Linked DNA regions of Homo sapiens. The protein of the gene in region 4 purifies or fractionates together with the protein of the main gene of each other region. This does not show direct contact. Each region holds a gene or a part of one and is shown on either strand. Other genes may lie near its edges.

Evidence for each region. The genes of interacting proteins can lie anywhere in the genome.
Region 1: the proteins of ADPRS (region 4) and GMFB purify together in Homo sapiens (co-immunoprecipitation; one large-scale study listed by IntAct). This does not show direct contact.
Region 2: the proteins of ADPRS (region 4) and C10orf53 purify together in Homo sapiens (co-immunoprecipitation; one large-scale study listed by IntAct). This does not show direct contact.
Region 3: the proteins of ADPRS (region 4) and CIB2 purify together in Homo sapiens (co-immunoprecipitation; one large-scale study listed by IntAct). This does not show direct contact.

What each region holds. Positions count from the first base shown.
Region 1 is NC_000014.9:54,486,181-54,490,399, forward strand, and holds the start of GMFB (glia maturation factor beta), read right to left. Parts: upstream 2,801-4,219; 5' UTR 2,748-2,800; coding exon 2,745-2,747; intron 1-2,744. UniProt on the Homo sapiens protein: This protein causes differentiation of brain cells, stimulation of neural regeneration, and inhibition of proliferation of tumor cells.
Region 2 is NC_000010.11:49,678,513-49,682,450, reverse strand, and holds the start of C10orf53 (UPF0728 protein C10orf53), read right to left. Parts: upstream 2,801-3,938; 5' UTR 2,754-2,800; coding exon 2,657-2,753; intron 1-2,656.
Region 3 is NC_000015.10:78,128,646-78,132,737, forward strand, and holds the start of CIB2 (calcium and integrin-binding family member 2), read right to left. Parts: upstream 2,801-4,092; 5' UTR 2,571-2,800; coding exon 2,520-2,570; intron 1-2,519. UniProt on the Homo sapiens protein: Calcium- and integrin-binding protein that plays a role in intracellular calcium homeostasis. Acts as an auxiliary subunit of the sensory mechanoelectrical transduction (MET) channel in hair cells.
Region 4 is NC_000001.11:36,087,413-36,091,691, reverse strand, and holds the start of ADPRS (ADP-ribosylhydrolase ARH3), read right to left. Parts: upstream 2,801-4,279; 5' UTR 2,788-2,800; coding exon 2,577-2,787; intron 449-2,576; coding exon 352-448; intron 75-351; coding exon 1-74. Other genes in the region: TEKT2 (tektin-2), read right to left, coding at 3,506-3,719, 3,885-3,964, 4,110-4,253. UniProt on the Homo sapiens protein: ADP-ribosylhydrolase that preferentially hydrolyzes the scissile alpha-O-linkage attached to the anomeric C1'' position of ADP-ribose and acts on different substrates, such as proteins ADP-ribosylated on serine and threonine, free poly(ADP-ribose) and O-acetyl-ADP-D-ribose.

The DNA of each region.
Region 1 (4,219 bases), on a different chromosome or scaffold from region 4:
CTGAGGTTGCAGTGAGCCGAGATTGCACCACTGCACTCTAGCCTGGCGACAGAGCGAGACTCCATCTCAAAAACAAAAACAAAAAAACAAAAACAAACAGACCCCAACTCTCAGCATATACAAAAATCAAATCAAAATGGATTAAAGACTTAAATGTAAGATCTGAAACTATACAACCACTAGAAGAAAACACTGGGCAATTGCTTCAGGACATTGGTCTGGGCAAAGATTTTTTTGAGTAAGACCTCAAAAGCACAGACAACTAAAGCAAAATAGACAAATGAGATCATATCAAGCTAAAAAGCTTCTGAGAGGAAAGAAAACAACGAGTGAAGAGACAACCTACAGAATGGGAGAAAATATCTGCAAATTCTCCACTCAACAAAGGATTAATAATCAGAATATACAAGGATCTCAAACAACTCAATAGCAAAAAATTCCCATTTAGTCCTAATAATAGTTAACATGTATCAGACCCTATGAGAGAAACACTGTTATATCCTTTACATAGATTTCCTTTTATGTTCAAAACAATCTCACGAAACAGATACTATTATTACTCCCATTTTGCAAGAAACTAAGGTTTAGAGAGGTTAAGTATCTTTCCCCAATTACATAGCTAGTGGAGCCAGGATTCAACCCAGGCAGCCTATCTTAACTCACTCTCTTAACCACTACAAAGGAGGTGGTGACAGATTGGATATTGGGGGTGGGGGTGGGGTGTGAGTAAGCAAAAAAAAGGGTTACCAGATATACTAGGCTTCTGGCTGGTATAACAGATTGTCTTGTATAACAGACAGAAGACTAGGTTTGAGGAGAAAGGGCATGAGTTCTACTTTGGACAAACTGAGGTGGCTTTGAGGAGACCAAGTGGAGGAAAAGCTTCCCAGGGGAATGGTAACTAAATATTGAAATATTAATATATAGATCTGGGGTCAGGCGCGGTAGCTCACGTCTGTAATCTCAACACTTTGGGAGGCCGGGGCAGGTGGATCACTTGAGGTCAGGAGATCGAGACCATCCTGGCTAACATGGTGAAACCCCGTCTCTACTAAAAATACAAAATTAGGGCCGGGCGCGGTGGCTCACGCCTGTAATCCCAGCACTTTGGGAGGCCGAGGCAGGTGGATCACGAGGTCAGGAGATCGAGACCATCCTGGCTAACACGGTGAAACCCCGTCTGTACTAAAAATACAAAAACAAAATTAGCCGGGTGTGGTGGCGGGAGCCTGTAGTCCCAGCTACTCGGGAGGCTGAGGCGGGAGAACGAACGGCGTGAACCAGGGAGGCGGAGCTTGCAGTGAGCGGAGATCGCGCCACTGCACTCCAACCAACGCGACAGAGCGAGACTCCATCTCAAAACAAACAAACAAAAAAACAAAATTAGCCGGGCGTGGTGGCACATGCCTGTAATCCCAGCTACTTGGGAGGCTGAGGCAGGAGAACTGCTTGAACCTGGGAGGCGGAGGTTGCAATGGGCCGAGATCCCGCCATTGCACTCCAGCCTGGGCCACAAGAGTGAAACTCCGACTCAAAGAAAAAAAAGTACATACAGATCTGGATTGGATCTCAGAAGCAAGGTCTTCTGAGCTGTAAATTCACAAGTCATCTGAATATAGATGGTAACTGAAGCCATAGTTTAGGATGAAGAATACAGAATGGAAAATGAAGGATTAGGATGAAACCTGGGACTCCTTCGAGCATTGTCCAGGGAAAGGAGAATAGTCTGAAAGGGAAACAGATGGACCAATAGGAGAAGTAGGAGGAGCTCTGTATCCCAGAAGCCAAAGGGGAAGAATGAAGGAAGAGAATGCTTCAAAAACAAGAGAGTATAACACTCTGGAATGCAGCTAAAAGGTCAGAGAAGACGAAAACTGAAAAGAATCCATTCGATTCAGTGACCATGACAAGATCTATTCGATGAAAGTGGGCTGAGAATTGAGTGGATGGTCACAGAGAGCAGTGTTTTGTTGTTTCTAATGAAATTTACCCATATTTTAAAACCTAATGGGATGGATCCAAAAGATCCTTGATGGCGATTTATTTAATTTTCCACTTTATTTTTATGCTTGGGGTCCATCCCATGTAAGAACAGAAGCCACAGCCCCCAGAACCAACAAAACTAAAGTTATTGACAATTACTTTAAGGCCCAGTGCCAAAGCTTTGGGTCGAAAGGTTTCCAACTGCCATAGGAAAGCAAAGATAAGGAGAAATCCTCTGTAGGAAGCTAGGGAAAGGAGCAGAGAGAAAGAAGCTAAGGTGAGGCCGAGAGAATTCAATCGGAATTCGAGTCCTCCCCCAAAACGCCGCCAGGTGGAAGATGCTCGGGGCCCACCAACCCCTGGAACCTGGCCACGGCCCTGGCAGGGAAAGCAGGAATTGAGGGAGCCCTCCGATGGGGCAGACCCCTTTCCCTCCAACCTACAGCTCAGAAGCTGAAGCCCTCCAACCAGAAGGACCTGGCGTGGGGCCTCCCCAACCCCCCTGCTCGTGGCCGCACCCTAGTCCCATGGCCCGCTGGGCGGGTCCACCCCGGGCCCAGCTGGAAGATGCTGCCCTGAGGCGTGGTGGCGGCGGCAGAGGCCAAGTACTCTAGCTATGGGCACTGGCCAGCTGCTGGGAGCGGAAGCGGCCGCCGAGCCCTCCTGGGCGCTGCCCGCCGCCGCCGGCTCCGGAAACCGGGAAAACCCGGCTGGCCGGCTCGCCCAGCCCTCCGGCCCCCGCCCTCCCAGCGGCAACTCACCATTTTCCTTCCGGCCGTCAGCGGCCTGTCGCCTACACTCGGGCGCCTTTAAGAATGGCACGGCGGCCGCCTCCCTTCCTGCCCCGGCGCCTGGCCCAGTCGCCCCCACCTATCAACGCGGCCTCAGCGGGCCGGCACGTGATGGCGGACGGCAAAAGGCGCGGCTCAAAATTAGACAGAATGCGATCGCCTGATTTTTTTTTTTTTTTTTTTTTTTTTTTTTTTCTTTTCCCTGCTCCCTCTAGAGGAGGACGCTCTGCCTGGCTGCAAGTGAGAAACAAACCCAAGGTGCATACTTAAAAGTCATGCCAGTTCTCCGGACCTTTTTCGCAGTCTTCAAGCTCTGAGAGCATGTTAATGGTGACATCAATGTTTTCAATGGTAAATGTGTGTACTGACCGCAGCCTACCTTCCAAATTTGATCTCCCTCAAATCTAGGCACACCTCCTTTCCTCCCACCCTCTCCAGAACCCCACTTCTGACCACGGCTGCCTTCCAGGACTTGGTTAATCAATCTCTCTCTCTCTCTCTCTCTCTTTCTCTCTCTCTCCCTCCCCCTTTCCCTCTCTCTCTTACACACATTTCTTCTCTCTCACACACACACACATTTCTTCTCTCTTCTCTCACACACACACATTTCTTCTCTCTCTCTCTCGTCTCGCTCTGTTGCCCAGGCTGGAATGCAGTAGCACGATTATAGCTCACAGCAGCCTCAAACTCCTGGGTTCAAGCAATCCTCCTACCTCAGCCTCCCCAGTAGCTGGGACTACAGCCGTGTGCCACCACACACCCGGCTAATTTTTAAATTTTTTTGTAGAGATAGAGTCTCCCTATATTGCCCAAGCTGGTCTTGAACTCCTGGCCACAAACAGTCTTCCTGTGTGCCTCCCAAAGCGCTGGGATCACAGGCGTCAGCCACCATGCCCAGCCTCTTTTCTCCATACAAGTTATTTATTGAAGTATGAATGAATGATGATTGGTGTTTCAATGAGCACTCTTATGGGCCACTGCCTAAGTAAACATCAAGAAGTCTCTGTACCAGATGCAGACTTAGTGGAACAAGTCCAGTTTTGAATGCATGAAGAAAGTGGTTTGGGAGAAGTAAAGTTTAGGCTCTAGGATTCAACAGGTACCTTCAATAAAACAAACTGCCTGGGGCAGTACCTCATTTTGTTATGACCATGGGTTCTTGGTCTCTCAATGCAAATTGACCTGAGGCCAAAAGAGTTTCTCCAGGCAAGGCTTCATTGGAGCTTATGCCGGAGCATAAGGGAGGCAGCATAAGAGAATGAGAGAATTCCCTGACTGACTCTCCTAAAAGAGCACAACAAATTAGGGGTAGTTTATGCAGGTCAGCATTATCTGTTTGCCAGGGTTGTCTTGAGTAATGGGCCACCCAATGGTCTGGTTTGCGGCAACAAGGCTGTGAATCAATTGTTCAACATTCCTCTCCAAGGTGGGACACTCTCAACCTT
Region 2 (3,938 bases), on a different chromosome or scaffold from region 4:
CTGTAACACTCACTGCAAGGGTCTGCAACTTCATTCCTGAAGTCAGCGAGACCACGAGCCCACCAGGAGGAACAAACAACTCTGGATGCACCACCTTTAAGAGCTGTAACACTCACCGCGAGGTCCCTGGCTTCATTCTTGAAGTCAGCGAGACCATGAACCCACCAGAAGGAATAAATTCTGGACACAGAGGGATAGGGTGTTGTTGCTTAAGGAATACAGTTTCTGTCTGGGGTGTTGAAAAATTTTAAAAAGAGAGAATAGTGATGGTTCCACAACATTGTAAAGATAATTAATGTCACTGAATTGTATGCTTAACATGGTTAAAATGGCAACATTTTAAATATATGTTTTACCCACGTTATTTTTAGAGACAGTGAACATAAACTAAAGGTAGATTATGAGGTGAGGGTGGGTAGGTGTGGCTCATCAGAGGGGGAGGAAGAGAAAAGTCACTTATTTAGGCTGTCTTCTTAGCCAAAACTACAAAACATTTTAAACATCACCATGCAACACTGCTAGGAATTGAATTGTTGCCCCCCTTCCCCCAACTTCATATATGGAAGCCCTAACTCCCAATGTGACTACAGGTGCTTAAAGAGGTAATTAAGGTTAAATGAGGTTATAAGGATGAGGACCCAATCTGATAGGATTAGTGTCTTTCTTCTTATAAGAAGAGACACCAGTGAGCTTGCTCCCCGCTCTCCCCATATAATCCCACCAGGTGAGGACAAAAGAGAAGGTGGCTGTCAGCAAGCCAGGAAGAGCGCCCAGAGCCCTCACCAGAAGCTGACCTTGCCAGACCTTGATCAGGGACTTTTAGCCTTTAGACTGAAAAAATATATTTCTATTGTTTAAGTCCCATAGTCTATGGTATTTTGTTTTGGCAATCCCAATAGACAAATACAAACATGGAGGTATTTGCAACAGAAATTTCTCTATCAACTGTTCTCTCACAGAAAGTAACTTCCTCTGCTGATTGAAATCCTACCCATCCTTCAAACTCAAACTCAAATGCCATCTCTTCCAGGAGGCTTTCCCTGATTGCTCAGCTAAAACTAATTTTTGTGTCCTTAGGCTTCAGGGTATTTTGCCTGGAAGACTCTTAGTTTGGGTCATAGGATGGGAGTTCATCAATGGTCATTCCTGGGCTCTCATCTCATTCTATATGTTCTCTCCAAGTCAATGACTCACATCTTTCTATCTCCATTTCAGACTTTTTCTCTGAACTCCAGAACAACAGAGCTGATTCAGCACCTCTGTCTAGGTAGCCGAAAGCACATGAAGCTTAATTCAGATGCTCCTTGACTTATGATGGGGCTAGGTCCCAATGAGCCCACTGTAAGTGGAAAGTGGGCTTAATACCTGGATAAGCCCATCATAAAGTGGAAAAATCGTTAAGTGGAACCATTGTAGGTTCAGATGTGCCTCAACTTAGGATAGGGTTACCTCCCAATAAACCCATGCTAAAGTCAAGAAGTCTAAGTTGGGGACTATCTGTATGACCAAAATAGACTGTTCCTTTGGAACGATTCCACATATTCCTCCAAATTTTGGTCCATCTTTGGTGTCTTTGATTTTAGTGGACAGTACATCCATCCATCAGCACTGTTTCAAGTCAGACACTGATTAGATCCGGATAACATTCTTTTTACCCTTACCTCCCACCTCCATCCTCTCAGGAAGTACCATTGCTTTCACTTTGATCCATGGTCTCCTTTATGGTCCAAGCTACTCTCATCTCAGCCCTGGACCACCCCAACAGACTTGTCTTCCTTGTTTCCACTCTTGCCCCCTCTAATCTGTTCTCCTCAGAGCAGCAACAGCTTCATCCCCTGCCTAAAACTTATCTGCGGCACTGCAGGATCTGGCCTGATTACCTCTCCAGCCTCATCCCCCATCAGTTTAACAAATATTAATACATCATTTATTGAATGCCTCCAGCCATTGCCTATATTATTAGTCCCTCTGCCTGGAAGGCATTCCTCTCTTTACCTGGTTAGTTTCTACTCATTCTTTAAAGGTCTACTTAAATGTGGGCTCATTTAAGGCTCCACTTAAATGAGCCTTTCCAGACCTCTCCCTCTCCCCTCCCATTATGGCTAGTCACAGGTCCCACTGTGGTTAGCTCCCATGGCACCACCTAGCCTCAGTCAGAGCTTAGGCACAGCTGTCATTTAGCAGTTAACAAGGAGATTACTTCAAGGACATTCATCACTGTTTAACAGTGTGTCCTCAGTCCCTGGAAGGGTGTCCAACACACACTGCGTGCTTAATAAAAGTCTGCTGCATGAACGATTAAGAGATGGAATACCAGCAACGCTACTTCCCAGCCATTTGAGTTGTGAAAGTCACTTAATATTCTTGATCCTCAGTTTCCCAATTCTTAAAGCAGGGTTATGTAATTTTTTCTATGGAGGTAATTTCTGTAATTTGCTGGGCACTGGGTGGGCCCACAGCTCACTCTTGGATAGAAGAGCCTTCCCACTCTTTTAGCCCAGCCCTGGAAGCCATAGGTTGCAACATCATCCTGGGGAAGACTTCCTGGAGAGGTGGCGCTTCGTGGGGGTCTGAGGAAGGCCTAGGCACAGGGCACCACCTGCACGGATGCTCAGAGGCTGGGGCCCTCAGGGGCGCACGCGGCGAGGAGGCCCACCTTGCAGGCCCTGCAGGCGGAAGGTGTGGTGCTCCACCGGTAGGCCTGCCGCGCTGTAGGGCCCATAGCGCAGGATGACCACTGCGTTCTTGGGCATCGCCAGGCCTCCGCCGCCGCAGAGGCAAGGGAGAAACACACGCTGCTAAGCAACCTCTCTTCCGGCCCGGGCGCGTGGGCGTCGCTACGCGCCGGGCGGGGCCGGGGTGGCGCTAGGGGATCCTCCCGGCCCCAAGCTGCTCACGTGACCCTCAGCGCCTGGTCCGCAAATACGCGCGTTTGAGCTGGTGTGGCAAGTGTTAGTGATAAATAACAGCAGCAGCCAGGCACAGTAAGTTCGTGTCAGGCGGCGTGCGAAGCATTTTCCCTGCGTTATCTGGTTGAATCAGTTTACCATCCCTAGGAAGTATTTTATGTTTTTTGTTTACAAAACCGAGGCTCTGGGAGGGCAAGTTGCGGTCCCAAGAGTGACAGGGGTGTAGTATGGATTGGAAACCCTTGCATTTCTTCTATTTTCTTGCCTCTTTTTGATTGATTGGGAGTATTCGTTCATCATTCTTCTTCCCCCACCTTCTTCCCCCGGCCCCTTCTGTCACCAGTTAGGCTATTTGGTGGAGCCAAAACTGAATTCGTCCAATTCCCTTTTATTTGCTCAGTTCTGCTCATTGGAATTTGGACATAAAAGACATCCACCACTTCTAGGCATGGCTCCTAAAAAGTCTCCTCCACACCTGCTGTCTCCCTCTTCTTATCGGTAGCCAGATACGGGATCCCAGGGAGGACCCGAGGCTCCCGGGGAGACAGACCCAAAACGTGGGAGGAACCTGGACCACTGAGTAGCTGCGCCGAATAGAGCCCCACCCATCTGCATTAGTTGGTGACCGAAGCCAGAAGGAAACATTTATTCCATAACCACTGAGATTTTGGGGGTTGTTTATTACAGAAATTAGCCCAACCTAACAATCGCAATACCCTTGCGATTACAGCATTTCTTTACTTTCTAAATATTCAATTGTAGTTGATATTTTTACCCTCCTTTTGAACAGTAAAGGATTTTAAAAACCCTTTCCCACTAATTCTCCCAACGTATGCTACTGTGTATTTTAATTCTCTCCACGTGTACAGTATGTTCTATGATACATATTTCTTTGATGAGAATTAGTTTATACACGATTGTTAAATAGAGGAATGATATCAGCAGAATTTTGACATTATTATGGGTCATACATAATTTCCCCCAGCACTTGAGTTTCGCACCATCGGACAAGAACCACTGAATTCACCA
Region 3 (4,092 bases), on a different chromosome or scaffold from region 4:
ACACCACTGCACTCCAGCCTGGGTGACAGGGCGAGCGAGACTCCGTCTCAAAAAAAAAAAAAAGGAAGAGAAAGAAAGAGATGAAGGAAGAGTGAGAGAACTAAGAGGGCGGGTGGCTGGAGGGGGATGGGCAGGAGGGGCGCAGGAGGGAGCAGTCAGACCTCCAGTTTGCAGGAGACTGAGCAGGCCTAGCCCAGGGCCCTGGCTGTCGTGATGGAGGAGGGGACCTCCAGGTGACCCACAAAAGAGGCTGAGTCACAGGCCTTGTTCTTAACTGAAAACATGGGCTGAGGGAGAGCAGAGAGTTGAAATGGCTGGAGGAGCAGCAGTGGGTGTTGGAGAGGCTGTGACCCCTGTTTTGGAGTTTGAGGGGTCTGGGGGATGGCCGTACAATGCAGAGGAGTGTTCTGGACAGAAGCTTAAATGTTGGGAATCACCGGCACCGGGAACCAAGAGGGTGCACCCTGCCCAGGAAAGGTTAGACTACCAGGCTGGGAGGTCCCAAGAAACCCTAGGTGTCACTTAGGGGAGAGGGTGCTGTAACTCAGGCTCACCCCCACTCAGCCCGGGCTGGCAATGGCTGGCTGGAGAGCCAGAGGGTAGGAGATGTGGGGCTCTCAGGTTTCACAGCTCTCATTTCTCCCACCCCGCCTGGCAGGGTCTAGCTAGGCTCTGGCAAAGAATCAGAACATAACACTGGGACTGGCTCCGATGAGTAACCCAATGCCAGGCTGGTTGGAGTGGGAACCTGGGCTCCCCACCCCCATGAAGCTACTCCTCACTTCTGAGCATGGCTTGCCTGCTTGCCCCTGCCCACTCCCAAGCCTTTATCCACGCTGTCCCCTCCACCTGGAATGCCTCCTCTGGGCCCCACTGGGCAAAACCCGACCTATCTTCCCAAGGCCTGCTCAAGTGCTGTATCGTTTCTGGACTTTGTCCCCCTTCCCTGCTGGCCTCCCACTGCCCACTAGTGCCCTTCCCTAGAACACACTCCACCACCTGCCTCTATCACAAGGGCCACACACTGGAGGTGAGAGTCTGTCTCTGAGTGTCTGAGACTGAGTGCCTTGGGAACAAAAAGCACACATGGCCCAGCCCAGCCCACTCCCAACTAAAGAAGTGAGCCTAGGAGTCAAGATTCGAAATCCTGTGTGAGCCCTGAATGGCTCCTCAGCCTCTGTTTACACGTCTGTAAAATGGGCTAATAATCCACCTCACTGTGATGATCAAGTGAGTTGATGCGTAGAGGGCATCAATTACTGTGCCTGGTACACAGCAGGTGCTCCATAAATGCGTCTCCCCTCTTCCTTCCCAGGGCCTCACCTGGGGAGCTGAGAAATCCATTACTGACAACTAGGGCTTCTAGGAGGAGAAGGGGCCTTTGTTTTACCTTCACCCACATCAGAGGACCCACACTTCACACCTGCTTTCCTTCACAGCCAAAGTAAGCACTGATGAAGGCAACAAGTGCCTATGGAGACCCTGTTGGTGTTCCTCCTGCCCAGTTACACAGGCCACAACACAATCCTGCCCCCTCCGCCTGGGGAGTCAGGGGAGAGGCATCAGATGTGGGACTTGAAGGGTGAAAGAGATCCTCTGGAGGGGGGAAAGGCATCCAGGCCCAGGAAATGGCATGGGCAGAGGGAGAGAGGGAGGGAGGAATGAGCCTGGTGAGCTGGAGCAACTGCAAATGGTTTTAAGGCGGCTGCCATGCAGAGGGCAGGGAAGGGACCTGGGGAGACTGAGGCTGCAGAGATAAGCTGAGCAATTGGCCAGGGCTCCGGGTAAGCCAAGGGGTTGGGCTTCATCCTGCAACCACAGCGAAGTTTTTACCTGGGTGGGACGGTATTGGGATTCCAGATCTGGAAAGCTGGCTCTGGAGGCAGGAAAACCTAGAAAGGTCTAAGGAGGTGGCTACTGAGGGCCTAAGGGAGCTGGGAGAGGTGGCCCTGGAAGGCTGCTACCGGGCTTGCGTTCTTGCTCCAGTTATCTCCATGCTGGGGTCAGAAGGAGCGAACCCCAGCCGATAAACAAGACAGTCCCAAGGGAAGACTGCATGTGGGGACTGATGCACCCCACTCCTAGACCAGACAGGACGCCAGCTCTCATTTCTGCTTTACAGAGACTCGCTCTCCTGGGCTCCTTCCTGGGGCTGGGGGGCAGGGAGCGGGGAGGGCGGTCCTCCGTCCAGCCTAGTTTACTGACTCCCTCTCCGGGCCAGATGGGCGCTGGAATGGGTGGCTGGAGAGGGGTTCGGGTCCTGCCTAGGGCGAGAGTAGCTGGAGAGAGGCGCGCCTGAGAGGTTCTTCCAACTGGAAAGAGCTCTTATTCCACCGGTGGGGAAACTGAGGCACGGCGAGGGGAAGTCACCGGCCCAAGGTCACGCGTCGAGCTGAAGGCAGAGGCAGGGTTTGAACCTGGGAGAGCTGGCTCTCGGGAGGCCTCGGCCAGCGACCGAGAAAAGGGAGGGGCGGCGGGGCGGCGGGGCCTGTGTTGGGGGCCGGGCGCGCCGAGCTCACCTGGTAGTTGTCTAGCTGCTCTTCGGTGAAGATGGTCTGCTTGTTCCCCATGGTGGCCGCCGCGCCGCCGCTCGCCCGCCCGGGCTCCGACTCCCATCAGCGGCCGCCAGACCCGGAGCCAGCGCCCCGTGCCCGCGGCCCTCGGCAGCCCCGCGGCTGGCAGCGGCCCACGGTGGCCGGACCCTTCCCGCCCCGCAGCTCGCCTGGAGGAGGCGCGCGGGGGTCTCGGAGGCGGGGACGGGAACCCGGAGCGGCAGCGACTCCGCCGCCGGCGGGAAGAGGGCGGGGCACCCGGCTCCGCGGCTGCAGCGCGCCCGGGTCCCGGCAGGAGGCGACCTGGCCCCGGGAGACGCTGCCCGGCACGAACCCTTGGCTCCCGCGGCCGGAAGTGCTGGGGGCGCGCGGGGGTCTCGGAGGCGGGGACAAAGACCCGGAGCGGCGGCGACTCCGCCCCGCAGCAGGAAGAGGTGTGAGCCCGGGTCCCGCCGTGGGAGTCCAGGTCGCACGGCGTGAGGGTGCGGGGCCTGGGAAAAAACCCTCTCGAGGCGGGCAGTGGGGCGAGTGGCGCCCCTTGACCTGGGGCGGGGGCGGCAGCGAGGACTGTGAGTGCGTGGATCTAGCTGGGGCCGGGCTCCGCCACCGTCTCGCGTCGCGACCTTGGTCAAGCCCTTACCCGGGCCCTGTCCCTCTGGGGAGAAGGAGGGGGTCAGTCAAGCTGACATCTGAGGCCCTCCCGGCCAGGCCTCGGGAAGCCCATCTGGCCTTTGGGCGCGGCCTAGGCAGGGCATCTCAGACCTTCTGTGTTCCTTAGGGAGCAGGACAGGATTTACTTGGCTTGGTTACAAACGTGAGACTTGAGAGGATTTAAAGGACTTGACTGTGTCCACAGAAGTGTGACAAAGGCCAAGACATTTTTTGGAGCTTTTAAGCAGATGCCATTGTAAGGGAAGCAGGACTTTACCTCTGCCCTCCTAGGGTCTTTGGCTGGGCTTGAGAATTAATTTGGCATAAGACAGATTAAGGGGAGAAAAACAGATTTAATACAAGTTTTACATGACGTGGAAGCCCTCATAAGGAAATGAAGACCCTGAGAACTGGCAAAATCTAAATACTTTTTTTTTTTTTTGAGATGGAGTCTCCCTCTGTCGCCCAGGCTGGAGTGCAGTAGCGCGATCTTGGCTCGCTACAACCTCCGCCTCCTGGGTTCAAGCGATTCTTCTGCCTCAGCCTCCCCTAGTAGGTGGGACTACAGGGGCATGCCACCACACCCAGCTAATTTTTTTTTGTATTTTTAGTAGAGAGAGGTTTCACCATGTTGGCTGGGCTGGTCTCGAAATCTTGACCTCAGGTGATCCACCTGCCTCAGCCTCCCGAAGTGCTAGGATTAGAGGCCTGAGTCACCACGCCCGGCCAATTATTGTATTTTTTTTGTAGAGATGGGGTTTTGCCGTGTTGCCCAGGCTGGTTTTGAATTCCCAGGCTCGAGCAATCCACCCACTTTGGCTTCTCACCCAAAGTGCTGGGATTATAGGATGTGAGCCATCATGCCCGGCCTCATCTCCTGTTTTTTAGA
Region 4 (4,279 bases):
GGAGCTTCTTGAAGACAGTGACTACTCCAGCACCATAGCCCCTGTCAGGGTCTTTCTTGTACTCCTGAGCAAATCTAGGGAACAGAAGGGGAGACAGAATTCAGATTTACAAGATGCCTCTAAGGGTTGGGAGAGAAGAAATCGAGGCTAGTTTGGAAAAAGAGAAAGCCTCGGGGGCCTAAGGAGCCTGCACCAGCAGTGCTGCTGTTTTAGCTTGGGAAGCTGTGCCAGCCTGACACAGGCTTCTGTGGAGGGTTGGGGGCGTGGACATGCACAAATGTCATTCCTCTGGTCAAGGGGTGCAATAACTTTCCCACCTGGTTTGCCTCAGCCCAGGACCATCCCCCTCACCTGTGAGCCATGTCCACCTCGTCAAAGGCCTCCTTGGCTAGCAGGGACTGCACCAGGGCCCTGGCCATGGCTGTGTCATCTGTGTAGTACAAGGCTTCTGTGGGGAGAGGAGGGAGGATGAGAGCCTCCTGCTCACCTTTGTTTTTTTTGTTGTTGTTTTTTGCTTTTTTTGGAGACAGAGTCTCGCTCTGTTGCCCAGACTGGAGTGCACTGGTGCAATCATGGCTCACTGCAGTCTTGAACTCCTGGGCTCAAGCTATCCTTCTGCCTCAGCCTCTCAAGTAGCTGGGACTATAGGCATGCATCATCACACCCAGCTACTTTTATTTTTTTGTAGAGACAGGGTCTCACTCTGTTGTCCAGACTGGTCTTGAATTCCTGGGCTCAAGCAATCCTCCTGCCTTGGCCTCCCAAAGAGCTGGGATTATAGGCCTGAGCCACTGTGCCTGGCCCTGCTCACCTTTTATTTTAGTTTATATTATTATTTTTTTGGTACAGGGTCTCACTCTGTTGCCTAAGCTGCAGTGCAGTGGTACGACCATGGCTCACTCCATCTCGACCTCCCAGGCTCAAGGAGCCTCTTGCCCCAGCCTCCCGAGTAGCTGGGACTACAGGTGCACACCACTGCGCCTGGCTTTTTTTTTTTTTTTTTTTTTTTTTTGTAGAGATGGAGTTTCATCCTGTTGCCAGGCTGGTCTCAAACTCTTGGGCTCAAGTGGACTCTCCCAAAGCGCTGGGATTACAGTTGTGGCTACGGCACCCAGCCTCTACTCATGTTTCAGAGTTACCACATCTAAAATGACCTCAAATCAGTTTCTCACTCCCATTCACTTTCGTGGGCCTGGGAAGCCTTAGGATCTCAGCAATGGGATTTTCAGCAATTCTTTATTCCAAGTCAGTCCTGCTGCTTTCTATTTTATGTATTTATTTATTATGAGCCTACATCATGGTTTGATCTTCTGATTTCTGAAAGAAAACTTCCATCCCCTTGTGGCTGCCATCCTTGCAGCTCCAGTCTTTTTGTTTTTGTTTTGTTTTTCTTTTTTATAGACAGGATCTTGCCATGTTGCCCAGGCTAGTCTCGAACTCCTGGACTTAAGCGATGATCCTTCCACCTCAGTCTCTGGAGTAGCTGGGATTATAGGTGTGCGCCACCATACCCAGATTGAAAATGATAGTTTCTGGATCCAGATCTCCTCCTACTTCACTTCTCTGGAGCACACCACCAGTGATCAGTGTCTTCATTTTGAAATTCTTTTCCTAGGTTTCGTTGATAGCCACTCCTGCTTCTCCTCCTATCAAACTGTTTCCTTCCCTAATCCCCTTCCCTCCCTCCCTCCCTCTTAATTACCGGTGTTCTCCAGGGTTCTGACCATGGCCCTTTCTTCTTACTATGCTACCTGCTCTCCAAGAAGATTCACCTCCTCTGCTTGACCTCACACCTGCTACCTGAGCCGGGATCTGAGCCCACAAGGGAAGGGAAGTTAGTTTTACAGGCGAGACAGCGCATGCAAACGCCTGGCCTAGAGGAATCATGGTGTGAGGAACCGAAGAGCAGAAAGCAAGGCCAAGGCTGGCGGAAAACGAAACTGCAGACGTGTGGGAGGGCCGGACCACGTCGGACACGTTAAGGAATGTGGCTCTGTACTAAGGGTAATGGGAAATCACAGCAGGGTTTTAGGCAGGGGAGGACGCGATTAGAGTCAGGCTTCCAAAGCACGCCTTGCGGGGTGGAGAACGGGCTGGTGGTATACTGACTCTAGAGAACCGGGAAAAAGAGGTCAAGTCGGCAAGGGTGGACAGACAGTCCCCGACTTAGGATGGTTCAACTTAAGTTTTTTTCGGCTTTCTGATAACGCTGATACGCATTCATAGGCTCCTCGACGTCCGATGGGGCTGCGTCCAGATAAAACGGTCGTCTAAGCTGAAAGCGCACTTTCCACTTCAGGTATTTTCAACTTACGATGGGTTTATCCACACCCTGCACGGTTGAGGCCCCGGTGCTGCCACGCCCCGAGCACGGGATGTTCGGGGCGAGACGTCTATAAGGCCGGAGATCGCACTGGCACTCGCTGAGCTCAAGCTGTCTGCGGGTCATCCGGCTCTGGCCCCGGTGCCCTCGGCAGCCTCATCCCCGCGCACCCCCGACCCGTCGCCCCCGGAGGCTCCGCGCCCCTTCGGCCTCCCTCCCGCACGGCCTCTGACTTGCGCCCGGCCCCGCCCACCTGTCCGCTCACTCCCGGGCGTGCCGGGGTCCGGCTCCAGACTCTGGACATGACGCAGGACTGACGTCAGGTCGACGGTGTCGTGGGCCTCGTAGAAGGAGCCCACGCAGTCCCCGAGCAGCGCGCCAGCCAGGCAGCCTCGGAAGCGCGAGAGGGAGCGGGCCGCGCCAGCCCCTCCACCTGCCGCTGCCGCCATCGCCGCTGCGGCCATCCGCGCGCAGACTGCTCGCCACTTCCGGTGCCGCCCTCACAGTTTCCCTACTTCCGTCCGCAGCGCTCCCTGGGGCCTAGAGTTTCCACTCCGCCGCCAGGCCCACAGCGCCGCCCAGCGGCCCGGAGTCGCGGCGCCGCGCACTTCCCGCCAGCCTGTGCTTTGAGTCTCGGTTTTCCGCTCCTCACCACTGGGCTAACTGGGTGGGAAGGCCACTATGGGGTCTCCGGGGGATGGGCACTGAGCCAGACCATTGGATCACTGCAGCCCACACTGCCTTCCGCAGGCGAGCAACCCTAACTCCGCACCCCCAGCCGGCCCTCCCCACCGAGGCCGGGACCACCCCCAAGCCCTCCCACCGGGCCCTTGCCCCCTGTGGGCCTCCCTTAAGCATCAGGAGGGCGGACCAGGGGCCAACTGGGACACAGCCAGGTAGAGGCCGCGCTGCTGCAGCCCAGGAGTGCTGACCCAGCCCAGAGAGGGGTGCCCTGAGGGGAGGGAAAGAACTGGATTTGGTACATGGAGTTCGGAGGAATAGTGTTCCCCATCTTTGCTCCTCCATAGACAGGAGGGTGTTCAAGAACCCTCTCCCTGCTGGCTACATACAGTGGGGCAGAGAACAGCCGGCCTGAGATCCTCTGCATTTATTCCATTCATTTCTCTCCTCCCTCCTTCCATTGCCCACCCAACCCTGCCCTCCTCCTGCAGTCCTCCAAGGCTAGGCCAGCTCCAGCTGGCAGCTTTTGAGTGGACTCAGGGTGCTATTTGTGGTACGTGTGAAGGTGTCCACCTCAGGCACGAACCTCTCAGCAGGCACGGTCAGCTTGCGCCGTGTGTCCATGCACTTGGTGTCCAGCAGCATGGAGTTGGCCTTGCAGGCAATGTCAGCCTGCAGCCGGGCCAGGTGCTTGCACAGGGCGTCCAGTGCGTCCCTAGGGAAGGACATTGACAACCCCCCAGCCCCCATGAGGCTGGGAGGCCTGGGCTGCGTGCATAGCCTTCAGTCAGGAAGACAGCCCCAGGGAGCCAGCAGCCAGCAAGAGGCCCCATTTGTGGGCAGCGTCTCACTGCTCCTTCCGCCCACTCCCGAGACCTACTGTGCTTGCGCCAGCTTCTGCTTCAGGGCAGCGATGGTTGCCTCTAGCTGGTGAACCTCGTCGGTGAGGCCGTACTGTGCCTGGAGGCAGAGGGGTTGGGAGTTCCAAGTCAGCCACACTGTCCTTTACCTGAGTGCTGCCCCTTGACAGCAGTGCCCTTGCTCCATCAGGAATATGAGAAAACCTTGGCTAGGGGGCCCGTGCGCCACTGGGACACCCTCTCACCTGGTCCCGGCAGAGTTCCACGTTGGGCCGGTAGGTTCTGGCCTCTAGCCGGGTATGGGACAGCTTCAGGCTCAGGAGCTTTGTGCGCAGATCCTCCTCCAGGTGCCGGATGTCCTCCTGCAGCTCAGCGATCTCCTCCAAGGTCTGCAGGGGACAGAGTGACTGGTTTC